Homo sapiens: one gene and its partners. The protein of the gene in region 6 purifies or fractionates together with the protein of the main gene of each other region. This does not show direct contact. Each region holds a gene or a part of one and is shown on either strand. Other genes may lie near its edges. The genes, in order: SLC27A4, CD47, GPR180, KDELR3, RFT1, LPAR2 and MAOB.

The links.
Region 1: the proteins of LPAR2 (region 6) and SLC27A4 purify together in Homo sapiens (affinity purification with mass spectrometry; one large-scale study listed by BioGRID and IntAct). This does not show direct contact.
Region 2: the proteins of LPAR2 (region 6) and CD47 purify together in Homo sapiens (affinity purification with mass spectrometry; one large-scale study listed by BioGRID and IntAct). This does not show direct contact.
Region 3: the proteins of LPAR2 (region 6) and GPR180 purify together in Homo sapiens (affinity purification with mass spectrometry; one large-scale study listed by BioGRID and IntAct). This does not show direct contact.
Region 4: the proteins of LPAR2 (region 6) and KDELR3 purify together in Homo sapiens (affinity purification with mass spectrometry; one large-scale study listed by BioGRID and IntAct). This does not show direct contact.
Region 5: the proteins of LPAR2 (region 6) and RFT1 purify together in Homo sapiens (affinity purification with mass spectrometry; one large-scale study listed by BioGRID and IntAct). This does not show direct contact.
Region 7: the proteins of LPAR2 (region 6) and MAOB purify together in Homo sapiens (affinity purification with mass spectrometry; one large-scale study listed by BioGRID and IntAct). This does not show direct contact.

Annotation. Positions count from the first base shown.
Region 1 is NC_000009.12:128,354,027-128,357,526, reverse strand, and holds part of SLC27A4 (long-chain fatty acid transport protein 4), read right to left. Parts: intron 2,475-3,500; coding exon 2,337-2,474; intron 2,130-2,336; coding exon 1,965-2,129; intron 1,878-1,964; coding exon 1,731-1,877; intron 1-1,730. UniProt on the Homo sapiens protein: Mediates the levels of long-chain fatty acids (LCFA) in the cell by facilitating their transport across cell membranes. Appears to be the principal fatty acid transporter in small intestinal enterocytes.
Region 2 is NC_000003.12:108,053,032-108,056,531, forward strand, and holds part of CD47 (leukocyte surface antigen CD47 isoform 1 precursor), read right to left. Parts: intron 2,536-3,500; exon of another isoform or gene 2,489-2,535; intron 1,318-2,488; exon of another isoform or gene 1,222-1,317; intron 1-1,221. UniProt on the Homo sapiens protein: Adhesive protein that mediates cell-to-cell interactions. Acts as a receptor for thrombospondin THBS1 and as modulator of integrin signaling through the activation of heterotrimeric G proteins.
Region 3 is NC_000013.11:94,625,857-94,629,356, reverse strand, and holds part of GPR180 (integral membrane protein GPR180 precursor), read right to left. Parts: intron 3,392-3,500; coding exon 3,314-3,391; intron 2,345-3,313; coding exon 2,186-2,344; 3' UTR 1-2,185.
Region 4 is NC_000022.11:38,466,656-38,470,895, reverse strand, and holds the start of KDELR3 (ER lumen protein-retaining receptor 3), read right to left. Parts: upstream 2,801-4,240; 5' UTR 2,663-2,800; coding exon 2,572-2,662; intron 1-2,571.
Region 5 is NC_000003.12:53,102,936-53,106,435, reverse strand, and holds part of RFT1 (man(5)GlcNAc(2)-PP-dolichol translocation protein RFT1), read left to right. Parts: intron 1-632; coding exon 633-763; intron 764-2,338; coding exon 2,339-2,483; intron 2,484-3,169; coding exon of another isoform or gene 3,170-3,222; exon of another isoform or gene 3,223-3,241; intron 3,242-3,500.
Region 6 is NC_000019.10:19,625,421-19,629,593, forward strand, and holds the start of LPAR2 (lysophosphatidic acid receptor 2), read right to left. Parts: upstream 2,801-4,173; 5' UTR 2,672-2,800; intron 1,865-2,671; 5' UTR 1,856-1,864; coding exon 1,123-1,855; intron 1-1,122. UniProt on the Homo sapiens protein: Receptor for lysophosphatidic acid (LPA), a mediator of diverse cellular activities. Seems to be coupled to the G(i)/G(o), G(12)/G(13), and G(q) families of heteromeric G proteins. Plays a key role in phospholipase C-beta (PLC-beta) signaling pathway.
Region 7 is NC_000023.11:43,872,451-43,875,950, reverse strand, and holds part of MAOB (amine oxidase [flavin-containing] B), read left to right. Parts: intron 1-3,500.

The DNA of each region.
Region 1 (3,500 bases), on a different chromosome or scaffold from region 6:
TCCTCTCCCACTCCGTACACAGCAGCCAGAGAGCTTTGTAGAGCATGAGTCTGACCAGGTTCCCACCTGCTAAGATGCTTTTTTTTTGAGACAGAGTCTCACTCTGTCGCCCAGGCTGGAGTGTAGTGGCATGATCTCAGCTCACTGCAACCTGTGGCTCCTGGGTCTCCTGGGTTCAAGCAATTCTCCTGTCTCAGCCTCCCGAGTCGCTGGATTACAGGTATGTACCACCACGCCCGGCTAATTTTTTTTTTTTTTTTTTTTTGAGACAGAGTCTCACTCTGTCTCCCAGGCTGGAGTGCAGTGGCACGGTCTCGGTTTACTGCAACCTCCACCTCCCAGGTTCAAGTGCTTCTCATGCCTCAGCCTCCCAAGTAGCTGGGATTACAGGCGCCCACCACCATGCCTGGCTAATTTTTTTTTTTTTTTTTTTGAGACGGAGTCTCACTCTGTAGCCCAAGCTGGAGTGCAGTGGCGTGATCTCAGCTTACTACAACCTCCACCTCCGGGGCTCAAGCGATCCTCCTGCTGCAGCCTCCCAAGTAGCTGGGACTACAGGCGCCCACCACCATACCTGGCTAATTTTTTTGTATTTTTGGTAGAGACGGGGTTTCATCATGTTGCCCTGGATGGTCTCAAACTCCTGAGCTCAGGCAATCCATCTGCCTTGGCCTCCCAAAGTGCTGAGATTACAGGTGTGAGCCACCATGCTCAGCCTAATTTTTTTATTTTTATGTTTGTATTTTTAGTGGAGATGGCATTTCACCATGTTGGCCAGGCTGGTCTCGAACTCCTGACCTCAAATGATCCGCCCACCTTGGCCTCCTAAGTGCTGGGATTACAGGCGTGAGCCACCACGCCCAGCCAGCTAATTTTTATATGTTTAGTGGAGACGGGGTTTTGCCATGTTGGGCAGGCTGGTCTCGAACTCCTGACCTCAAGTGATCTGCCCGCCTTGGCCTCCCACCCAAAGTGCCGGGATTACAGGCATGAGCCACTGCGCCCGGCCTTGCTGAGATGCTTCTGTGGCTCCCTACTGCCCCCGGGACAGTCCCGACTCTTACCCTGGCCTGCAAGGCCCTGGGCTTCTGGCCCCTGCTGGTTTCTCTCCCACTTCATGCCACTGCCTGCCCCTCTCACTTGGCTCCAGCCTTGGGGGCCCCCTTTCGTTCCTCCAGCACCCAAGCTCCTTCCTGCTTCGGGGGCTTTACAGTGTCTATTCCTGCAGCCTAGAGTGCCTCCCACCGCCATAAAGTCCTTCCTTTCATTCAGGTCTCAGCTGAACCATCCCCTCCTCAGAGGAGCCTTCTAGTCATCCCAAGCGTCCCACCTTTTTGCTTTCCTATCAGCTTGCTCTGTGGTTCATTTTTCTTTTTATCTGTTTAACTCTAATCTCATGACAGATTATGTGGTCGATTCTTTACCTTTGGAATGCCTTGTCCTAGGCCAGCCTCTCTCCTGCTCTAAAACTCCAAGAAGGCAAAACATCCAGAGCTCACCAGCCGTATCCCGAGGCTTAGCGCTGTGCCTGGCACCTAATATGTGTTCTACTAAGGAACAATGTGTGTCTTCTCTGCCAGCCCCGTCTGCTCACCTCTACACAGGCAGGTCACTTTACCAACTGCCCGGCCAGGCTGTGTGCAGAGGTCAAGTAACAGCCAACCGGGTCTCTCCAGAAGGAAACGGGAAGGGACCTGGGATCCGAGAGCTGGAGCAGGGGAGGGACACACCTGTTTTGTGCAGCTCAGGCAGGAGGCGCAGGAAGATGGGGCGCGCATACAGGGGCAGTTCCTTCTCCAAGACCTGAGCAAAGCGCTCCAGGTCACAGTTGCCAGTGGGGCTGGCCACAGCAGCCATTCCGGCCCGGCCCTCGGTTCCTGGGGGTGGCAGGGTAGACACTGAGTAGCTGGTGGTGCCCCTGGGTGGTGCCTCCCTACCCACACCTCGCGCCTGCCTGCACATACCTGGCACCTCGACACCATACACGGCCACGTCAGCCATGTCCAGCAGGCGGCTGAGTGTGCCTTCCACCTCGGTGGTGGACACGTTCTCACCTTTCCAGCGGAACGTGTCCCCAGTGCGGTCTCGGAAGTACAGGTAGCCCAGCTCGTCCATCACCAGCACATCACCTAGGGAGGGGCCGGATGAGGCAGGGCTGGGCCTGGCCAGCTCTGAGACCAGGGCTCAAGCCAGGGAGGCTTTGCTGGAGCCCAAGGATTTGTTTGACCACAAGGGCCAGGACTGGGGGAGTCCTGGGAAGGTGTCCTCTGGAGGTGGGAGAAGGTCCCCTCCTCCCCCAACCCTCAGGAAGGGGCTGTGAAGGGCTGGGGACCCACCAGTAAGGTAGGCCTGGTCCCCCTTCTTGAAGACATCCTTGGCAATCTTCTTGTTGTTGGCGCCCTGGTTGAGGTAGCCATCGAAGCGGCGCAGGGGGTCTTTCTGGATGATGCGGCCCACCAGCTGGCCCGGCTCACCTGGGGTGGGGAAGGCAGGGTCAGATCTGCCCTAGGCAGCCTCTCCCACCCGTCCTGTCACCAGGTGTACCCTGCGTCTTTTTTTTTTTTTTTTTTTTTGAGACGGAGTTTTGCTCTTGTTGCCCAGGCTGGAGTGCAGCAGTGCAATCTTGGCTTACTGCAACCTCTACCTCCTGGGTTCAAGCAATTCTCCTGCCTTAGCCTCCTGAGTAGCTGAGATTACAGGCACACGCCAACAGGCCCAGCTAATTTTTTTTTTTTATTTTTTAGTAAAGATGGGTTTCATCCTGTTTGCCAGGCTGGTCTCGAACTCCTGACCTCAGGTGATCCACCCGCCTCGGCCTCCCAAAGTGCTGGGATTACAGGTGTGAGCCACCACTCCCAGCCTGTACTCTGTGTCTTGATCTGATTTGAGTCATGCTGCTTGCCACAGAAATGCCCCACCCTCCCCCAGCCCAGGAGCTCATCTTGGCAGGTCGGACACACTGAGCCAGTGATGTTTGTTCTCGAAACTGATGGGAGGATGAACATAAGTCAGGCTCCTTGGGGACAGCCTAACAAAGCCAGCGCCCCAAGCCTCTGCTCCATGCCGGGACCCACTCAGAGTTTTATGTTCTTTATGAAACATAATCCTCAGGCCAGCCCCATGTGTGGGTGCTGCCATGGGCACAGTTTGTAGATAAGGGGACTTAGGCACAGTGAGGCTGAATACTCGCCCATGACACAGAGCTAAGGAGCTGAGCCAGAATAAATCTCAAGCAGCCTGGACTCAGGGTCATTTGGAGTCAATATGAAAATGAATGAATGAGGGCCGGGCATGGTGGCTCACATCTGTAATACCAACATTTTGGGAGGCCGAGGTGGATGGATCACTTGAAGTCAGGAGTTCGAGACCAACCTGGACAACATGGTGAAACCCCATCTCTATTGAAAATAGAAAAACTAGCCGGGCATGGTGGGGTTTGCCTGTAATTCCAGCTACTCAGGAGGGTGAGAAAAGAGAATTGCTTGGCCGGGCGCGGTGGC
Region 2 (3,500 bases), on a different chromosome or scaffold from region 6:
TTGAACAGAAACATGCCATGAACCACTCAGCAGGAGGGGGATCCTACTGAACAGAGAGGCCCATTCCGCTGGGACCTGGGCTGGATGACAGCACTGGATTTTCTCATCAGCAGATGGAGGCACGCCTCCAGGACTGCTCTGTGTTCCTTACTATTTATTTACCACCACTGCACACTCGAATTCTGTCAAGCTTCCAAAGCTGGCAGGGAAAAGGGTGGGTCCTGACCCAAGGAAAGCCAATCTGTGAGCCAGCCAAAAGCTGGTGAGTCTTTCTCAAACAGGAAAAATGGCAACAGACTGGACTGACAAGTTTCTCCCTGCCACTGGACTCTAAGAAGAAACAGAAAAAAACCCAGAAAGTTGGTGATGGGAAGGGAAAGTGAAAAAGAAACAGAAAGGAGACAAGGATGAGTCCAAAGCTGTAGGTAAGAAAAGTTGTCTGTGAGAAGGCATGAATAGGATAAAAAACAGTGGCATAAACAAGAGGGTGAGCTAGCTGGCTAATAGGCAAAGAATCAAAGACAGAGGAACTCAGGAACTATAACTGACAGGGGCATCACCTTACTCTTGCTGCTGAGAGGGCAACACGATGCTTCAGTTCTTTGATATGGAATGGATCCTTCCAATTCCTAGACTACATACTGTCCCACCCCTGTGAGGCCCAGTTATGTATCTGAGCTCATAGGAGTCCAGTTTCTGTTAGTGCCATGGGCGGCTTTAAATAGGCCTCCCTTACTGTGGAGGAACCTGGGGGAGTGACTTGGTCCTTGTATCCAAACAAGAAGCCAACCTCTTTTTAAAGTAGAACAGGGTAAAATGGGTTGGGATGCACTACATTTAGCAGCCTCCCCAATAAACTAAGCAGAAATACAGAGCTTTATTTGGGAACATCAGGATAGTTACATGTATATACAACTGACTTCAATGAAACCATGCCTTATATCTATGTTCTACAAAGAAAAAGAGAACTAAACAACTATCTAAATTTCTGATGGTAATATGGAAGTTCAGAGATAAGGTTTTAGAGTTACATTTTTGAGCTCATAAATGTATTTATCAGAATAAACACTGCCAGGTGTAGTGGCACATGCCTGTAGTCCCAGCTACTTGGGAGGCTGAGGTGGGAGCATTGCTTGAGCCCAGGAGCTCGAGGCCAGCCTGGTCAACATAATGAGACCCTGTCTCTAAAAACAAAACAAAACAAAATAGAATATTGCTAACCGCCAAGTAACTCCTTTTCTTCCCTAATAATGTAGAAAGAATACTTTCTAGTTCTAAATCTCCGATCCAAGGGATGTCACAGTTGGCTGGCCCATTCTGAAAAAAAAAGATTTATGAAGAATGGTACTTCAAAGGGACATCAGTCAGTTGTGATCCCTCTAAATATTATAAAACCAAACAGTGTACAAGTTAATTTCACCTGAGTTAATTCTCTCCAATATGGATATAACCCATGTGACAAAAGAATTATTACGATTTCTGCTGCTACCATGAGCCTAAGACATTGACAGCCATATATATATATTTTTTAACCACAAGCCTTAAGCATTCCATATGAGCATACTTGCAATGCTTCTTGATTTGTTCTTCTCTCCCTGAAACATCTGACTCCATGCCATAAATACATTTCCAGGGTTTAAATTTTTCAGAAACATTTTTTCTATTGATACCAAATTTACCTCTCCTTAAATTGAACAAGAAAATATCTGAATTTGTATCTATACATAGATATAAATTCTACGTATATATTCTGCATCTGCATCATTCTAAAATATCTGGGATGTTGTGGTAAATATGGTACTTACTGCTACCAGATTGATTTGTATCAAAACACTATATGCCCTTATATTGAACTAACTGGTAATGGCTTTAAAAATGAGAAAGTATTGATCCTTATAATTATATAAACGTTCTCTACAAACAACAAGCCCAACTTTAGTGAGTTTGGTTAGGTTCTTGTAATCTTTTCTATGCTTTCACATTAAGTTATTGTGCCCAGTCCTTTTTCTCATCTTATAAAATTAAAATGCTTCCAATAAAAGAAAAAAAATACAACACAGTTTAAAAAGTTAAAAAATAGAAAGTGAAAGTCACTTTCACAGAAAGTTGTAGAAAGTGAAAGGCCTACTCTTTAAAATAGCAAATTAAGGCTACAAATTTAAAGTTGGAAATAATAAAAATTATAAAAGTTAAAAATCTCATAGCGACATTAACTTCTTCTTGAAGAGAAAGCTTGGATTTTTAACTATTTGAGGATTTTATTGCATTTAAATCAAAACACAATCATTAGGCTTTTCTAAAACAGAACACGTGCAATGAGTAAAAATTATTTTGGAGACACTTAAAATTTTAACTTCCTAATATAAACGCTCAAATTTGCAACCTTAATGTTACATAGATTCAGATTTACACAGTCAGATTATATAAGCAAACCATATTAATGTTCCTCCTAGTCTACCATGTTATCTAAAGAGCAACTTTCCTGTACCTTGTCTCTTCTTGCCTTTCAACTGACTGTAGGTGTCCCTCTGAACCCTGGCATCAGACAAGTTGATTTAAAAAGTTAATTTAGGATACTATCAATAAAATTAGGACACTATCAATAAAATTGCACTAAATTTTAAACATATAGCATAAATTTTAGCATATAGTATACTTATATGCTAACCTATGACAAAGAAAAAATAATTTGGGGTACTTGTCAAGATTTAAGTCATTTTAATTTTAATGTCAGAACAGTGACAGGTACAGTACAGTGGTTTCACAGGCTTGGAGGAACGTAAGTGATGGAGAAGGCAGGAGAGTGAAGTTAAGGAGGTGGCAGATAGACAATGCTTAGTTCCACTTGAGACATTGTCACCAGACCTGCTGGCAACTGTACTGAAGATCATTCTATGCTAGATATGGAAGGCATGGGGTGGCATGGGAGTAAAAGGGAGGACAACCCAGATAGTGAGGAAAAAATAAGAGCGTGCTGCCCGTCAGCCAAAGGTATCTCATACTACTTCACCAGAGTTGTATGGATACTGCAAATCACACACTATTCTCAGGCATTTGTGGGGAGCAACAAAACCAGGAGTGTCATCTTCCAGAACCAGACACATGGTGATTGGAAGATGTAACAAAAATAGAATATGCACCAACATTCAAGATGTTCACTGTAGCTACCACATGAATTCCATTCTGCTTTAGATGTCTCCATTGTATTTTATGGCATTATGTGGTATAAAATTAGAAAATTTCATTGAGCAACAACTAAGACTTATGAACTCATATGCTAAGGATACGCAGATTTTAGTTAAGTATTTTAATTATTTATCTAATAAGCATTAATTAAAGAAAGACACAGAATATATGACAGAATTGAATTCAATTAACAATCATCAAGAACCAAAGTTCAGAAATAAAGGTAAAAGTTTTTTGAAACTATTATGTGAGTCATATGAGAAATTATTTGACTATAACAATTCAAGTTTCGTATTAAGTTTTAGAAACACATA
Region 3 (3,500 bases), on a different chromosome or scaffold from region 6:
CTCTGGATGAACCATTTATCTTCTTTCAAAAAATGTAAAAACACATAAAAAAGCATTATCTGACAAAGAAAAGTAGAAAAGATTTTTATCTTTAATTAGAGTTTGTAGTATACACTTAACTTTCTGTAATCTGCAGTGATGAATCTCTATGTAAACATTCAGAAAAAGAGCGAATACTGTGTCATGACTTATGAACTATAAATTTTGTCCCTGATTACTAGTCAAGAACAGTTTTATACATTTATTAACAACTACTTTCCTCCACTTAACAACAGCTCTTAAATAACAAAATAAATTATCAGCATTTCCAACCATAAATTTAAGAATTAAAGTTTAAAAAACTGGTTAGTTTCATAAATGCAAGCAGAGTAATAAATTTCATATATGTTAATTGCAGTTACTTATGTTCTTTGAGTGAAGTAACACAAAGATTTTTCCCTTCCCCTTTTGGCAAGTTCACAAAATTCATGAAAAGTCTTCATCTTTTTCTTTTTTGCTTAATTTCTTTTTTGCATCTCAGCTGAACACAACAGACAATAGCTGGGGTTATTAGCGAGACATGATAAAAGAAAAGGTTATGACCACTCAGACGATCATGTATACCTAAAACATAACTCAGACTTTCTAGTCTTAACCTGTAGCTCTAATGTACTAAGTGATTTACAAAGAACTAATAGAGAGATGATTTAATGAGCAGGTTGAACTTGGTAACTTTGTCATTTTGGGTCACAAACACATATTCTGCCCTGAAAATGAGGCAGAATACTAGTCATTTCCAATGAGACTAGGTACAAAAGAAAAACAAAAACAAAGCCATAGATATTTTTAAGTTGCACTACATTATTTTAACTATTTAATTAAAAAATTTAACTACCAGATCAGTGCACTGTTGCTTGCTTAAACACACAGTAAATAGATAAAAAATATTTTTAAAATAAGCCAGAAGTAAAAAGGAAAAGGCCTGAACAGCTTGACAAACAGCAACAGAATAATTTCCAATCAGTGACTATTAATGGGAATACTCATTTTATACAGCGAGTATTGACAACCATTTAGCAATTCTTTAATCAGGCACTTGATATTTTTTAGCTAGCATACTCAATACTGGGGCATCACACACACACACAAAAGTATGGCTTTATTACAAAGGATTCAAGATGGCAACTACTTAGAATCCAGTGCCAACACGGATTATAACAAATCCAGTGAGTGTTTTGTTTTTCAATTATTCATAGAAAATTTAATCCTGATTAAGTATCCTTGGGCAGGAATTCATGGGTAGTTGATGACTGAAACCAACATTTATGTGAAATGCTTCTGTTAATTTAATCTGTGTATACGGCTTAATTATGATTGGGGATTCAACGTAAGAGAAATGAATTCTATTGGGATCAAAATTTCAGTACCATATCACATAGTACCTTTTCCCTTCTTTCTGTTTAAACACATAAACCTGCTTGTCCCTTCACCTAAGTGCTCAGATTTTAAAATCCTTTGTCCTTACAACCCGTGTAATGTATTTAAGTTTTATTTTTTCATAAACTGTTTGTCAAAAACCTTTGCTAATCAAGCTAAAACCTGAACTAGAGCCAAAAATGGCAGAAAAAATTGGAGAATAACTCCACCCACAAATAAACAAAAGCTTATTCATTTAACTGTGAACCTATTTTATATTCATTTCCTGAAGTAATTTCAATTCCTTTAAACTCAAATATGAAATACATTTTCCTTAAAGCATAAAAAGCAGCAGTTTTAAAAATCAATGTATTACACTGATTTCATAACTGGACTAGTTTAGATATTTATAAGCAAGTAATCATTTAACTGATTACTTTTTATAAGACTATTAAACCTGAGTTAGCTATTAAGATGAGGCATTATAAGTGGTGAATATTTTACCAAAATATCATAGTTATTTTTCACATTTATTTCCACATAGAAATCGCTTCAATAATTTTATAACAACACTTTCTTCAAAGTTTGTTGTTTAAGTATATTTCAAAACATTTCATTTATTACCTTTTTTTTCAGTCTTGGTACTGCTTAAATGCAGTTATATAAATAACATGCTCTGCTTTCGCTGTTCAAGTTTTCATACTAAATGTATGAAAAAAAAGTCACTGTATTTGGATCCTTATTGCACTCTTTTAACCAATTCACTTTTCCTCTCAACAAAAATCAAGTATCAGAAATGAGGGCGACTTTTGTGTCCAGATGATATGGTCAGTGGTAGTGTTACTGAAGAAAGTGAAGAAACTTCCCAGTATAGACTGTGAGACAGAAAGAGTCTGTAGAGAATAACCATGGAAACAGACTGGCAAAGGATAACACCTATTGTAATAACCTGAAAAGAAAAGGAAAGGAATGCTTTTACTACATGCAGAAATAGAGAAATAATATTCAATTTATTATGAATCTATATATGCTTTTTATATAAATACAATACTCTATCTTTCATCTTTACCATAGGTACATTTTATCAAAAAAATTTTCTGACTAATGCTCAGAACTCTAATTGTTTAAGGATAAAAATCCCTTTAACAGTTATTTTGTAGATGACAAAGTAAGGCACAAAAGAATAACTTGCTAAACCATTCTCTCCTAAGGGTATGCACTACAGACAAGTTTCAGTAAATAAGAAAAATCAGGTTCCTAGCTAATTTAGGAACAGGAATAAAGCACGCTCCTACCTGAACTTTAAAGAGTACTCTAAAAGCCCTTTCAAAAATTCTCAAGTTGCTTCTCTATTTTTGTAGACTACTGTCCTATCTATTCACCCTTTGTAAACACCTCAGGCTCAATAAACATTTGTGCATTCAGGCACATACTGCATTGCTTGTAAAGGGCTCCTGGCAGACCTCTATTTTGAAATGATGGAGCCATTCACCTAAGAAGGTAGGTATCAACACAATCAAAATGCATCATACTTGAGCATGGCACTCTGGTTTGTAGTCTGTTCAATAACTAGACTGATTTTTACAAATCTTGATTTTTGCTATTATGTAAGAAAAATTTTAATCATTTTTTAAAAGATGTATTATAAATTCTCTAATTTATAAAACAAAATTTCTATTTTAAAATTATCTATTGTAGTACAATCAAGAAAAGCTATTTCCACCATTTTGCTTATAAATATTTTAAAAATATTTTAAACTTCAAATTTATCTGCTTATTGGTTTACTATTTTGTTTCAAAGTTTTAAATAACCCAGAAAATGTCTTAAAAAATAAATAGGTCCCTCCTATTTAAATATTCTCCCAATTAAGACAATATTTTCATTAAGAAAACTACTTTGATCATGTATATTTCTTACCTTGTCTCTTTGGTAGTCGCTAAAAATGACAGAAATGCATGCAAGAACTGGATGGCATAAAAACCACAAGATACAGCCCTGAAACAAAGGAAAAAGTGAAATAAGTAGAACTGTGTAGCTTTTTTTCAGCATGTACCAGACAAAAAAATGTTACTAGCATTTTTAGGTTCTGATTAACCTCAACAGG
Region 4 (4,240 bases), on a different chromosome or scaffold from region 6:
CTGGGATTACAGGTGTGAGCCACTGTGCCCAGCCCCCCGGTGATCTTGAGCACAATAGTTTTCACACTTTTGAAAACAATCATTTCCACCAGGAAGCTGCACATGGAGACCCGGGACACAGAGGACAATGTGAGCCTGGACTGGCCAGAGTCCCTCCGGGGTCCACTAAGCATAGGTGGACCCCACTGCCAGGGGCAGCCCTCACTCCCATTTGACAAATGGGAAAACACAGGCCCAGGGTCACACAGCGAGTCAAGGGGAGGAGTGAGAGTGAAGCCCAAGTCTCTGGTCTTTGGGGCTGGGTCTGTTGAGGTCATACCAGGCCCTGCCTCCATCACCTCTGACTTCTCTCTGTGCACACACAGGCCCATCCCTGCCACCCAGCTGCCCTTTTTCTGTTCCCATAGTACTCACTATGGCCTCCAACAAACCGTGTCATTTGCTCAGTTTCCTAGGACTATTGTTTATTGATGGCTTCCTACCACTAGAAAGTCAGGTCCACCACTTGGCCGGGCATGGTGGCTCACACCTGTGACTCGAGCCCAGGAGTTCGAGACCAGCCTGGCCAATATGGCGAAACCCCGTCTCTACTAAAAATACAAAAATTAGCTGAGTGTGATGGCGGGCGTCTGTAATCCCAGCTACTTGGAAGGCTGAAGCAGGAGAATAGCTTGAACCTGGGAGGCAGAGGTTGCAGTGAGCCGAGATTGCGCCACTGCACTCCAGCCTAGGGGATAGAACAAAACTCTGTCTCAAAAAAAAAAAAAAAGAAGTGGGCGCAGTGGCCCACGCCTACAATCCCAGCACCAGCACTTTCGGAGGCCGAGGTGGGTGAATCACCTGAGGTCAGGCGTTCAAGACCAGCCTGGCCAACATGGCGAAACCCCGTCTCTACTAAAAATACAAAAATTAGCCGGGTGTGGTGGTGCGTGCCTGTAATCCCAGCTACTCAGGAGGCTGAGGCAGGAGAATCGCTTGAACCTGGGAGGTGGAGGTTGCAGTGAGCCGAGATCACACCACAGTACTTCAGCTTCAGGGACAAAGCGAAACTCTGTTAAAAAATAAAAATAAAAAATAAATAAAAGAAAGTCAGCTCCACCAGGGCTGGGCCTCTGCTGTCCGGGCTGTATTCTAGGTGCCCAGCAGTGTCTGGCAGACAGCGGCCAGGTACCAGTGTCCCCTCTTGGTCATGGTTGCTCACTCCGTGCAGGGCCTTCTGCAAAAGTGCAGGAAGAGGTTGGAGCTGATTCTCCCCTCACCAGGGCCTGCTGCTCCGGGTCCCCCACTCAGCATTCCTGGCCACCTCCCCTGAGGAAGAACCTGAACTGTCTCTGTACCTGTCTCTCCAGAGACCCCAAACCCAAATGGCCTCCAGGCCTAGAACCACTCCCTCCACACCGTACTGTTGCTCATGTCTGCACCAACCCCCACCCTGCCAGGCCTCCCCCTGCTCTGTGCCTTTTCTCTCAAAGCTTGCAAAGCAACCTGTTCAGGCCCCCTTCCAGGCCCCTTCCCGGCTCCCAAACCATGAAGGGCTCCCCAGACCCAACTCCCTGGCCTGGCAGAAAAGGCCCTTTCACATCTGGACCAGCCTCCCTCCTGGACTCATCTCCCTCCAGACCACCCCAAATCTGGCTGCCCACCCTTCCCGGGGGATGCCCGGTGCTTGGTGACCTCCATGCCTCTTCATCCCCGGAGCCCTCCACAGCACACACTTCCTGGATTGACACCTGCTCGTCCTCCGGGACCAGCACGGAGCTGCTCCTTCCACAGGGCCTTCGGGGCCCACTCTCAGCCTTCTCAGCCTCCTCAGCCCCACGAGGAGCCTGAGCTCACTCCTGCCTCTGCACACCCAGTGCCAGGCACAGGGAGGGCACCACGAGGATGCCGGTGGACAAAGATGGCTGGAGGAGGCTCTGGCAGCCTTTCGTGGCTCTGGATCTGTTGGCGACCGCGAGTCCAGCCTCCAAGCTTCTCCAAACCCCCAGCAGGGCAGCCAGAATGCAAACAGGGGACCCCTCCAGCCTTCCCCGGCTTCCGTTTAGAGGCAGCTCCATACCCGCCTGAGCCCGGCTGGTGCCCTCCTGCCACATCACAGCCACCGGTGCCACACATGCAGGCAGGGGAGGGACGAGGGCTCACTTTGGGGGGCGGGGTGGGGTCTGGGAAGGGGCAGGGAAGAGAAGACCTTGAGAATCGTGGGCCGTTCCTGAGTGCATATCTGCTTCTCCCCACAGTCGATGGTGGAAGGAACAATGGGTGTAACTGGTGGGAGGGAGGGGTTGTCACCTCCCTTATAACCCCCTCTTCCAACCAGCAGTGACACTGCCAACCTGAGGGGGCGTCTGTGCAGGAACAAACCCACCCGCCTCCCATCATCTCGAGGGGTCCTCCTCCTCTGATTTTATACAACTTTACATTGTTTTTGGAAGTGGAGCTCCGCAAAGTTTCAAGGACCCCCACGCCGGAGTCCCCACCCTGAGCAGACACCTGGAGCGCCCTGCCCTGCACGCAGGGGCATGAGGCTGGCCAGAGAGGGGGTCCCGCACCTCCCTGCCAGGCGCCCCTCACCCTTGCAGCACTTGGACCTCCAGATCTTCCCCAGCAGCAAGATCATGGCCAGGAGGTGGCTCAGGTCGCCGAGGATTCGGAACACGTTCATGGTCCAGCCAGTCAGTCGTGCGCCCGCGCCCAGCAAACTTCTAGGAAACTTTCTGGCGGGCAGGGCGGCTGCCACGTCTCCGGCCCCGGTCTCTAGGTGCCCCAGAGCCCTGCCTGCGCCTCACAGCTCCGCGATCGCACCCGCGCGCCGCCGCCCACGCACTCTTGGCCGGGCGGTGACGTGGCCAGGGCGGCCGCCGGCGCAGGGTGGGGAGCCAGGAAGCGGCGCGGCCCGGAGATCCCGCCTCCCGCCCATCCCAGCGCCCGGCTCCCGGACTGGGCGGCCCGGCGACGCGGGGGGGCTTCTGGCCTGCGCCCGGCTGCCGTGTGCGCCGGGTGCCCGCCACGACCCATGTCGCCCATGCCCCAAGTGCCCTCTGCCTTCCCTCCGCAGAAACTGGAGGCCTGCCACCAAGCCCCAATCTCTGCCTCAGTTTCCTCATCTGTACACAGGCCCCATAACACTGGTGCCAGCGCTTGGCAGGAGCCAGCACGTGGAAGTACCCTGTGGGGCGATTCCTGCTATTGTCCTCATCTTCCCGGAGCTGGAGCTCCCTCCCTGGGAGAGTGGGGTGGGGCGGGGCGAGCCGGAAGCGGAGTCCCCACCTCCGTCTGTTAATTTGGTTGTCCACCCGGTCGGGACCCGATCTTGCTGCAGGTGGACAATGGTAATGGCACACCACTCAGCAGCAGAATCAGACTGACCTCGGCTGCAGCCTGGGTCGGTGGGCCTTCCTCTCTCTTGGTCTCAATTTTCTCACCTGTAAAATCGGGTTGTTGTGGGTAGGCAGGAGGTCAAGCTGGTCAGGGAGATCCAGGGCCCTCGTTCGTGCCTTCCCTCTTCTTGGTGTTACTAGGATGTTAAACAGGGACACACAGGACAGGAGAGACCCAGGAGGGCTGAGCACCAGGAAGGGTGGGGAGTGAAGGGTCCCTGGTGGGAGGGAGTCCTCCCAGGGCTGTGTGGTCTGAGCAGGTCCACCACCCCCTCTGGATATAAGTCTCTGCGTCTGAAAGAGTGGACCAGGTGAGCTGAGGGCCCTTAGCCTCCCCTCCTTGACCTGAATAAGCCCTCCTCCCATTCAGCGCCCTCATCTCTCTCTAAATAACGGACCTCCTCCCACTCCCACCTCCTGCCACAGATAACCAGAGAGGCTTTTCCATGACAAATGTATTTAAACAGAGATGGGGTCTCACTGTGTTGCCCAGGCTAGTCTCGAACTCTTGTGCTCAGGCCATCTGCCTGCCTCAGCCTTCCAAATGCTGGGATTACAGGCATAAGCCACTATGGCCAGCCTCTTTTCTGTGATAAAAATCTGTCACTTCAGTGGTCAAGACCCTTCTATGGCTCCCTATGCCCCCTACTTTCCCTACTTTTCCTCCCAGGGAAAGGCAGTCCTTTTTTTTTTGAGACAGAGTCTCGCTCTGTGGCCCAGGCTGGGGTGCAGTGGCACAATCTCTGCTCACTGCAATCTCTGCCTCCCTGGTTCAGGCGATTCTCATGCCTCAGCCTCCCAAGTAGCTGGGATTACAGGCGCCCGCCACCACGCCAGGCTAATTTTTGTATTCTTAGTAGAGA
Region 5 (3,500 bases), on a different chromosome or scaffold from region 6:
AAAACATCAACTTTGCATTAATGACCTGTATAAGAAAGTACTGTTGATGGAAGCATTCTGTATCTTGACTGTATCATCGTTGGTATCCTGGTTGTGATATTGTACTATAGTTTTACAAAATGTTACCACTGGGTAAAGGGTATATATGGGATCCCTCTATTACTTCCTATTTTTTTGTCTTTTTTATTTATTTTTTATTTTTTGAGACAGGGTCTCATTCTATTGCCCAGGCTGGAGTGCAGTGGTACCATCACAGCTCACTGCAGCCTCAACCTCCTGGGCTTGGGTGATCCTCCCACCTCAGCCTCCCAAATAACTGGGACTACAAATGCACACCACCACGCCTGGCTAAATTTTTCCATTTTTGTAGAGACAGGGTTTTTCCGTGTTTCCCAGGCTCATCTCAAACTCCCTGGCTCAAGCAGTCCACCCACCCTGGCCTCCCAAAGTGCTGGGATTATAGGCATGAGCCACCGTGCCTGGCCACTATTACTTCTTATAACTCTGTGTGAATCTATAATTATCTCAAGATAAACAAACTTTAATGAAAATATTAAATAATTTTAATAGTGCTATAAAAATTAAAATAGAAAAACCAACATGATTGTTGTTTCTTCTTTTTTGTTTTGTAGGTGTGTATGATATAGTGAATAATCTTGGCTCCCTTGTGGCCAGATTAATTTTCCAGCCAATAGAGGAAAGTTTTTATATATTTTTTGCTAAGGTGCTGGAGAGGGGAAAGGATGCCACACTTCAGAAGCAGGTAATGTTGGTTCTTATGTCATCTCTCAAGTGAATTCTCCCTTTAATTGCAAGACAGACAGGAGTGTGAAGCAGTCTGTTTCTCTTCTGTTTGATCAGGAATTTTCTTATAGATTTCATTCTTCTATTACATTCTTCATGATAGTGGGACCCAGGGCTCACCTCTTCTTTCGTGGCCTTCTTGCTTTGCTCTTGGCTGTCCCTTCCTTCTCACACCTTTGTTATTCGTTGTGACCTTACTCTTTTTGGGGGGGGGGGCGGGGATAGAGTCTTGCTCTGACGCCCAGCCTGGAGTGCAGTGGCATGACCTCGGCTCACTGCAACCTCCACCTCCCAGGTTCAAACGATTCTCCTGCCTCAGCCTCCTGAGTAGCTGGGACTACAGGCATGCGCCACCACACCCAGCTAATTTATGTATTTTTAGTAGAGATGGGGTTTTGCCATGTTGGCCAGGCTGCTCTTGAACTCCTGACTTCAGGCAGTCTGCCCACCTCAGCCTCCCAAAGTGCTAGGATTACAGGTGTGAGCCCCCATACCTGGCCATGTGACCTTACTCTTGATCCAGCCCTCTCAGGACTCTAAAGCTGTCCCCATTGCCCTGCAGATGCCCAGCCATGGGCTAGTCTTAGGCGTAAGAATGCTTCCCTTATCCTCAGAGTCTCAAGAGCCAAAGGATGCAGAAGTTGGAGCCAGGCTAATCAAGGGCATAGGGAGGAGAGGAAGTGGTTGTTGGCTTTCGCTCACCACACCAATTATTTAAGCTTCTTACAACTGGGACATGCCCAGAGCTACACTCTGACTGTAAGATTCTGTATACTCGGGTTGGTAAATACAGAAGAAGAGATTTTAATCTAGGAGTATTTTGTTGTAGGAGCTTCACTTTTTCCAAAACCACTGAAAATGTCTGACTTTTCTTAGAATAGCAAGCTAGTTCAGCCTCTTGCTTGTCTTAGAAGAAATTTAGTAAAATACAGTTTATGCACAATATCTCAAAATGAGCTAATCTGGTACTCAGTCTGATTTAGGAATATTTTCCTAAGAGTACCTTCACAGTATCATCATAATTTTGGAATGTTTAGCAGGAGAAGCACAGAGCTGGCTAGTGTATATGAAAACTTGCTGCACATTTAAGAATAAATATTAGTGGTCTGGTGCAGTGGCTCATGCCTGTAAGCCTCACGCTTTGGGAGGCCAAGGCAGGAGGATTGCTTGAGGCCAGGAGTTTGAGATTAGCCTGGTCAACATAGTGAGACTCCCTTCTCTATTTCTATTTAAAAAAAAAAAAAAGAACAAATATCAGAGGGGAAAGTGAGTGTTTCCTAAGCAATATTTGAAACAATTTATCCCAAGTGAATTGAAAACTAACCCTCCCCCTTACGACCTAAGGAGACACACACTTTTTCCTTCATTTGCTAACTGACGTGAAAACAAACACACTACAAAAAAATAGTGATATCCATCACGCTGTTGGAAGAGTGAACTGTAAAACAGTGAAGGGAGAAGGCCAGACGTGAAGGATGAAGGTTTTCTTCAGCTCATGATTCATCCAACTTCCTTCCCTCTTCCCTGGCCCCAGGAGGACGTTGCTGTGGCTGCTGCAGTCTTGGAGTCCCTGCTCAAGCTGGCCCTGCTGGCCGGCCTGACCATCACTGTTTTTGGCTTTGCCTATTCTCAGCTGGCTCTGGATATCTACGGAGGGACCATGCTTAGCTCAGGATCCGGTACGCACAAGAGTTTTTCTGGATTTTTTCTGATTTCCCAACATAAATAGAAGAGTCACGAAATTCAAGAACTTGTGCACACACAGTTGTTATCTGTGTCAGTGTAGGGAAAACTGTCTGGTGGCAGGGGCTGTGGGACTGTTCCCCTCGTTCAACTCCAGACACACACTCAAGGTATAGGCAGGGGCGTTGGCGCCAGGACAATCAGCTTCCCCAGCCTCACTTGGAGAAGTTATTAGGACTTCTCCTTGCTGTTGGCTTTCCTCTCGGGCCTAGAATGTGTTTTGCCAAGCGCTTCCCTGTGCTCCCTCTGGGGTGAGGGAGGAAGGCAGAGGGCAGACGGTAATGAGTCTCCACTTGGTACTAAACACATCTGAAGATAGTAAATGCCACATAAATCTCCCAGCCTAGTGCATAAAAGCCTCTGAAGGATAACCCAAAGCCATTTGCAGAGAATAAAATTGATCTCTGCAAATAAAATGGTATATTTAATCCAGTGACTCTCAGTTTTTGAAGAAGAAAAGTATTGAATGTGTCTAATTTTGAAACACCAGGCCGCTGAGGATCTCACAGCACTTGTTAGGTCTTGGGGACTTCATCAATTTCAAAATGTGCTGGGCTGTAAGCTGGCAGTCCATTTGCAGTGCTTCATCTTGGGTTTAGCAAAGATGTTTTTAATTTCTCAGGTCGCTGGACAAGAACGCTGAGGACTTCTTTCTGCTGCCCCATCTCAATATAAAGGGCTTTGTCAAATGCCATTTTACAAGTTCACTAGCATGTTTTAGTCTCCACTACAATGGGGCCCAAACTTTTGGTGTTAGGGGAGGAAGGGCCAGGTTTCTATACCAGAGCAAAGGTCATTAAGTTTGGAGAAACACCTGCTGTGAAACCAGTGAAGTGGTTTGCAGCTCCCTGGGGCTTGTGCTGTGAGAAGTGTATTTCCATCTGGCAGCTGTGGGGAGGCCTCATGAGGAAGGCATTAGTAAGTTTATGGGCAGAGATTGGGAACTCGACTAT
Region 6 (4,173 bases):
TGGAGCCATTGTAATCCAGCCTAGGCAAGAGTAAGATCCTGTATCTTAAAAACAAAAATAAATTTTGAAATTTAAAAATATGGGCCGGGCGTGGTGGCTCATGCTTGTAATCCCAGCACTTTGGGAGGCCAAGGCGGGTGGATCACGAGGTCAAGACATCGAGACCATCCTGGCCAACATAGTGAAACCTGGTCTCTACTAAAAATAGAAAAATTAGCCAGGCATAGTGGCACGCACCTGTAGTCCCAGCTACTCAGGAGGCTGAGGCAGGAGAACCACTTGAACCTGGGAGGCAGAAGTTGCAGTGAGCCGAGATTGCGCCACTGCACTCCAGCCTGGGTGACAGAGCGAGACTCTGTCTCAAAAAAAAAAAAAAAAAATTAAAAATACATATAGATTAAAAAACAATTTAAAGGCTTTTTGTTAAAACAGGCTTAGCACTGCTAAAAACTCCTTTTTTTTTTTTTTTTCTGAGACAGAGTTCTGGAGTTTCGCTCTTGTTGCCCAGGCTGGAGTGCAATGGTGTGATCTCGGCTCACCACAACCTCCGCCTCCTGGGTTCAAGCAATTCTCCTGCCTCAGGCTCCCGAGTAGCTGGGATTACAGGCACACACCACCATACCTGGCTAATTTTGCATTTTTAGTAGAGATGGGGTTTCTCCATGTTGGTCAGGCTGGTCGTGAACTCCCAACCTCAGCTGATCTGCCCGCCTCGGCCTCCCAAAGTGCTGGGATTACAGGCGTGAGCCACTGTGCCCGGCTAGCACTGCTAAAAACTCTTAAGGGGTTCCCATGAAACTCAAAATAAGACTCCTGTCCGTGCCCCTTAAGGCCTTGCTGATCTCTCCTCCTCACAAGCCCACTTTCCTCTTTAGAGGCTCTGGCCTCGTACTGCCTTGAGGTTTTTACTTTCCGTTTCCTCTGCCTGGAAGGCTCTCTGTTCCTATCCTCAGCATTCAGGCCTCTGCTCACATACATTATCACCTCCTTGGAGGACATTCCCCACCTAAATCATCCCCCATCACCCTCTATCAGGTAGCTTGTTTTGTTCATTGCTTCGCAGTGTCTTGTGGGAGATAGGGGGAAGCAGGGTCCCTGTTGCCCCCTGGGGGCCCCACTTACCCAGGATGATGACAACAGTCTTGACCAGGCTGAGCGTGGTCTCTCGGTAGCGGGGGTGGCAGCTGACATGCTCTGCCATGCGCTGCACTCGCCGCCGCACGTAGAAGAAAATGCGGGTGTACACAGCCACCATGAGCAGGAAGACAAGCAGGCTCGACAGAGCCCAGACGGCCAAATAGGAGCGGCTGAGCAGGGGTGCCATGCGTGAGCAGCGGTCCAGGGCACAGAGGCAGTGCCAGGAGTGGGCAGGCAGCAGCCCCAGGCCCAGGGCAGCCACCCACACGCCCACAATGAGCATGACCACGCGGCCACGGGGCAGGCGGCTGTGCAGCTGCACGGCCATCACACTGCGGTGCCGCTCCACGGCGATGGCCAGCAGTGTGGCCACCGACGCAGTGAGGCTTGTGTCCAGCAAGCCCTGCCGCAGGAACCAGCCCTCAAGTGAAAGTCGGGCTGTGCGGGGACCAGTGTGGAACATGAGGAAGAGGTAGGCCACGCCCGCGAAGAGGTCAGCCGCGGCCAGATTGCCGAGCAGGTAGTAGATGGGCTGGTGGAAGCGGCGGTTGGAGGCGATGGCTGCTATGACCAGCAGATTGGTCAGCAGCACCAGCACGCTGACGGTCAGCCCCAGTGCCACCACGACCACATCCTTGGGCCGCCAGTGGGAGCTGAGCTCTTTGCCACTGTTGTTATAGAAGAAGCCGATGGTCTCGTTGTAGTAGCACTGGCCCATGATGACCATCTGGGGACACAAGAGATCAGTGCATGTGGCACTTCTTGGAAGGACACAGGGAGGGGCGGCAGCTGCAGAGGAGGGTCAGCGCAGGAAGGACAAGGGTCTCAAATTCAGATACCTCGAAGCAAAGTGGCAGTGGTGAGGACTACGGTGGCCTGGAAAAAGCAAGCTCCATGGGGCTGGGGTGGAGGTGGAGGAGCAGCTGTTTCTTACCTACTAATAAGACCTGTGTGCAAGACATCACCCAAGTCAATAGGTTTTTGAACCAGAAGTGAAACAAAACCCATCTATGGTCGAATCCCAGCCCACCTGCCGCCAATGTGTGACCCGGTTTGGGTTGTGGGGAGAGGAGGGTTAGGGAAAGACAAAGGGGTGTGAGCTGCGGGAAGAGATGAGGGAGGATCACTTTGGTGCCGGAGTCAGTGTAGGGAGCAGAGACCCGGGAGCGTGTGCACACAAGGGTGAGGTCACTTGCTAGAACCCTGCGAGGGGGCGGTGCCGAGGCGTGGAGGTGATCGGAGTGGACAGAGAGGCGGCCCCAGAAGTTAGTCGGCGGGATTTGGGCGCGAGTGCTTCCCAAGCGGGCGGGGCAATAGGCTGTTCCGGGTGGGACGGAGGACACTGGCGGTCTCCGGGACAAAGACAGCGGTTGGGGAAGGGATGGATGGCCGGGCCTCCAGGCGTCTCCAGACTGGGGAAGGGGTAGGGGGTTAAGGGATCAGAGGGCGGCGTCCTGGCCCCGCAGGCACGTGCCGCGCCCTTCCCCCGGGCCCAGGCCCGCACCCGCCCGCCTCCCGTCCGTGCAGGCCTCACCTGGGCCTCCAGTCACGCCGCAGACAAGGCGGGCTCGCGGGGGTTCGGGGCGGGCTCGAGGCCCATGGCCCGGCGACTGCGGCGGGAGCGGTAGAGCGTCCGGGTGCGCCCTGTGCGGGTTGCTGAGAGGGCGCGGGAGGCGGGGTCTCCCCGGCGCCCCGCCCCCACCACCTGGGGGAGCCCTGCCCCGCCCCGCCACCTGGGGGAGCCCCGCCTCCACGGCCGCGTCGGGGGCGGTGTCGCCCGGAACCGCAGCCCCCCTGTTTCCTCCCCGCCTCGCGGCCCCTCAGTCGCCCCTATTTCCGGCGCGGGACCCCCACCCCGGTACCTGCACACCTCATGCGCCCGCAGTTTCGAGCCTGCGGGGCTGAGTCACTCGGCGACCCGAAAATTCCCGCCGTGACCCCGCGCTGCCCGGGCGGAGCTCCAGGTGGTCTTGGGTCCGCGCCCCCGCTCCGGACCCCCAACCCTCCCAGCCCCACCCCGCTCTCTTCTTCGTGTCCAATCGGCCGCCGAGTTACAAGCCACTCCCTGATCCGACTTGGCTCCCACCGCCCGGACCCCCGCCCAGCTTCGGCTTTGCCAGCTCGCAGTATCAGCGAGCCGCGGCCTCCTGTGCGAGGCCCACCTCTGCGGCCCCAGCTGATCATCGGGCGCACGCTAGGGTTTTGCAATCCCGCCCCCGTACCCCTCACCCTGGGACAGCGCTGCCCCCTGCAAAGCCCGGCCCTGCCCTGCCCTGCCCTGTGGCTTCCTCCCTCGGCCTCCCTGCGGCGGCCCCGGGCTCCCACGGTCCGGAGCACACAGCCCCATTGTCCCGGTTATCGGTACTTTGTTATACTGTATTTGATTATGCAGGACCGGATCGGGGACGCAGAGCTCCGGGAGGGCCGGGCTGGCGTGACTCAGCCGGGTGCTGCGACCCAGCTCCAACTGCCTTTACGTAGGTGCTGCAGGGTGTTTGATGATGCAAGAAGGAGGCCTTGAGGCCGGGCGCAGTGGCTCACGCCTGTAATCCCTGCATTTTGGGAGGCCGATGCGGGACGATCACGAGATCAGGAGATCGAGACCATCCTGGCCAACATGCTGAAACCCCGTCTCTACTAAAAATACAAAAAAATTAGCCGGGCATGGTGGCAGGCGCCTGTAGTCCCAGCTACTCGGGAGGCTGAGGCAGGAGAATCGCTTGAACCCGGGAGGTGGAGGTTGCAGTGAGCGGAGATCGTGCCACTGCACTCCAACCTGGAGACAGAGCAAAACTCCGTCTCAAAAAAAAAAAAAAAAAAAAAAAAAAAAGAGGCCTTGATTCCCCTAATCTGTAAAATGGGGGCAAGGAGTGCTACCCATGCTGGCCTCTCCCCTAGCAGAGATGCACCCAAGGGCATATAGGACACAGTTTATTAGAGGCCATCAGACCTCAGGCACCACCAGCATGTGGAGTCTGAGCTGCCCACCTCCTCCAGGAAGGTCACTTCGAGTCCGTGAAGGAGGCAGGCAGGTGT
Region 7 (3,500 bases), on a different chromosome or scaffold from region 6:
AAATGTGGTTATTAATTCTTCAATTTATCCTTCTGCAAAAGATGCCCTGCTAGATATCAAAAGCTCTTTCAAAGAGCTTGTCTCTTCAATTTGTCTTGGTACTTCTTCAGCCAAGTTTCTTCAATTTTTCTTGGTACTTGAAAAGCGGGTGAGTGTTCCTGGGCTAACTCCTAGAATTCTCAATAAATGTTAACTTTGTTATTTGTACAAGTCACTGGGCAGTACTCAATTGAGGGCACCCTGGAATCATGCAAGATCGAATACCCTTGAAGGGTGCAAAAGTGAGCCAAATTGAGGGGCCACGTTCAGGTGTAATATGTGTCTGAAGAACGAGTGTTTTCAGCCCCACAAGAGAATGCTTTGGAAATTTGCTCAGGTTAAATGTGTACCATTGTGCTTTTGCAAGAATCTCATTCGCTGGGCTTAACTTATTAGTAGTGTGTCTGCATAAAAGTTGTTATTTCCCCTAAGAGGAGGCCATAATGGTATAAAATTCCTTCCTGATTTTGAATATTCAAGGAACAAACTTAGAAGACCAAGCTAAAAAATACTTTGGTTTAATAGAATCATTGGTGACTGAAGACGGAAGCATCTTTAGAGTTTTACCTACTAGTTAAGATCGCCTGGTTTTGCATCCAAGAAAAAGCACATTTAGAGAGTGCAAAGGGCTGGCTCCAGACCTCACAGCCCCTTCTTTTGAATAAAATTATTGTCCTGGAGGATGAGCCCTCAGCCTTAGGAGAAAATGCAAACAGAAGGACAACCTGATCAAATGGTGCTGGGTGAGAGGTTAGAATCACTAATACTTTGAATGCACTATTTCTACTTTCTGTTTTCATGCTCACAAAATGGATCCATCTTTGGCCTCCTCTGTTAACTCAGTAAATAAAGATACAGAAAGCCAAGTCCCTGTTAGCAATGTTTCCTAAGTCAGCATGCATTTATTTACTGAAGGAAGGTATAGAAAAAGAGTAAGACTAAGTTCCCAGCCTCAGGAAACTTAAAATGCAGATGGAGACACAAGACTAGCACATACATGCAATAAGGAACAATTAAACTAATGTATAATTGAATTCTGAACTGTGGGACCCAAGGACTAAGTTAGAAGAATCATTAAAGACCCCAGGAGTTGGAGAAGGTCTCATTAAGGGAGTAGAATTTAACAGATTCTGAAGAACAGTCCAGGTTTGGGAGGGTAGAGAAGAGAGAGGCTTTAAAGATGAGAAGAATCATTTAAATCATAGGGCCAGAGACTTCAGTTAGCAGGTGATCTTTATATTTACAGGACAGTAGAAAGTCCAGCTTGTCTAGAATAAAAGGAAGGGGAGACATGGGAAGGAAAGTTAGTAGGAGGGGGGCAGGATCCAAAAACGAGCAATTGAAAAACAAAGTGAAAAGTTAGGTTTTCCTGTGGTAAGAAATAGGGAGCCATTGACAGTTTATACTATAAAGATAAGGTGGATGGTCGTGTGCCTGATAACCAGGGAAGCCAAAACATGGATAGAAATTCAGGAAAGGATTGAGAGGTGATCAGCTGATTATAATGTATTGGGTTATTCTGAATGCCCAAGGGAGGTTTCAAGAGAAATGGGGATAGAAAGAAGGGAAGAATGAGTAGAAGGAGGTGTCCAAAGTTGCACTTGGCTTTCTTCACTGTCTTGCTGGCAGCCTATCCAGAAAAGAAGTATCACAAACAATAATTAGTTGTAATTTAATGAAGTTGTAGGCACTCCATAAAACATTTACCACTGTTACTATTGCCACCTATATTTTATTTTTGCAAACTTCCCTCCAAAGTTTTATCATTGGGATTGAAGGACTTGACTGTATTTACATTTTTTCTTCTTTAAAAAACTAAAAACAGAGATTTTCTTCCCAAGGGCTGTGACCCAGTTTACTAAATGATAAAACGTGTATCTCTGGCAATCTCAAACACAAAATGAATAGTTCATCTTATTTGTTATATAAAAACTGTCGGCCGGGTGCAGTGGCTCACACCTGTAATCCCAGCACTTTGGGAAGCCGAGGCGGGCGGATCGCGAGGTCAGGAGACCGAGCCCATCCTGGCCAACATGAAGAAACCCTGTCTCTACTAAAAATACAAAAATTAGCCGGGCGTGGTGGTGGGCGCCTGTAGTCCCAGCTACTCGGGAGGCTGAGGCAGGAGAATCGCTTGAACCAGGGAGGCGGAGGTTGCAGTGAGCCGAGATGGCACTACTGCACTCCAGCCTGGCGACAGAGACAGACTCCATCTCAAAAACAAACAAGCAAACAAAAACGAACAAAAATGTCATTTAAACCTTTTGTTTTGTGAGAGAGGGGCACCATCAGAAAACATCTTCAGGTAGGTCTGACCTTTCAAATGTTAGTCATCTTACCATAGTCTCCATTTAATGGCATCTTAAATGTCATATACTATCTAATTTCCACTTCATATCTGAAATTTGAGCTCTTGATCTTATGTTATGCATCTCTTAGCTAGGCCATTTTTAATTCTACTCTCCTCCTCAATAACATTTATCAGAATTACACAATGATGAAAATGTCCTACTAGATACTTAGTTTTATTTGCTCTCCTTCTAGCCTAAATAATCGTCCCTTTTGCTTAACCTCTCCAACATTTTTAATGATTCTTTTAATTGAATTTGGAATCCTTACTTCATATTTTGAAGTTGGGCTACTTTTTATTGCTGTGATCCCAGTGGTGTGTGTGTATTAAATTGTGTATTGATAATTATGTCTTTAGTTATATCTCATTTCTTTGGGTTATTTTCCAGTTTTCTACATTAAAGAAACAAGCTCATTGGAAGAGCTTTTGTTATCCAGCAAAGCATCTTTTTTCAGAAGGATAAAGTTAAGAATTAATAACCAATTTAGTTAATAACCAAAATTACTTCAAACATTTGGTAAGAAGAAAGGCCACTGATAGAAATGAAAGATGCAATCACATTCCATCTTGATGATCTACAGTTTGAGGACATTTTTTAGAGAGGTGTGAGTATCTTTTTTAATAGCATGAATGCAGAAATAATAAACATTTGTTGTGAAAATCTGTAAATTATAGAAAATGGCAAAAAGAAAATGAAAATCATCCATAATTGAACTCCATAAAATATTTACCACTGTTACTATTGCCACCTATATTTTCTTTATGCAAACTTTATGTTGTATTTACTGTACTTATTTGTATCCCCTTTAAAAATAAATACCAACATGTTATGAATGTTTACCTATGTCTTAAATGTTTTTTCATGATTTTATAACATTAGTTCATATGATTGTATCACAACTTGTTGAATCAATCTCCTATTGCTGAACATTTGTGTTTTTTTCAAACTTTCTGCTATTTTCAACAAAGCTGTTATGAACCTAAATTGTTGTACATAATTCTGATTGTTTCTTTAGGAAATTTCCAGAGATAAATGTTAGAAATTCTTTTAAGGCATTTAATAATTATAGCAAAATTGTCGCCCAAGAAAGTTTTACCAATTTACCTTATG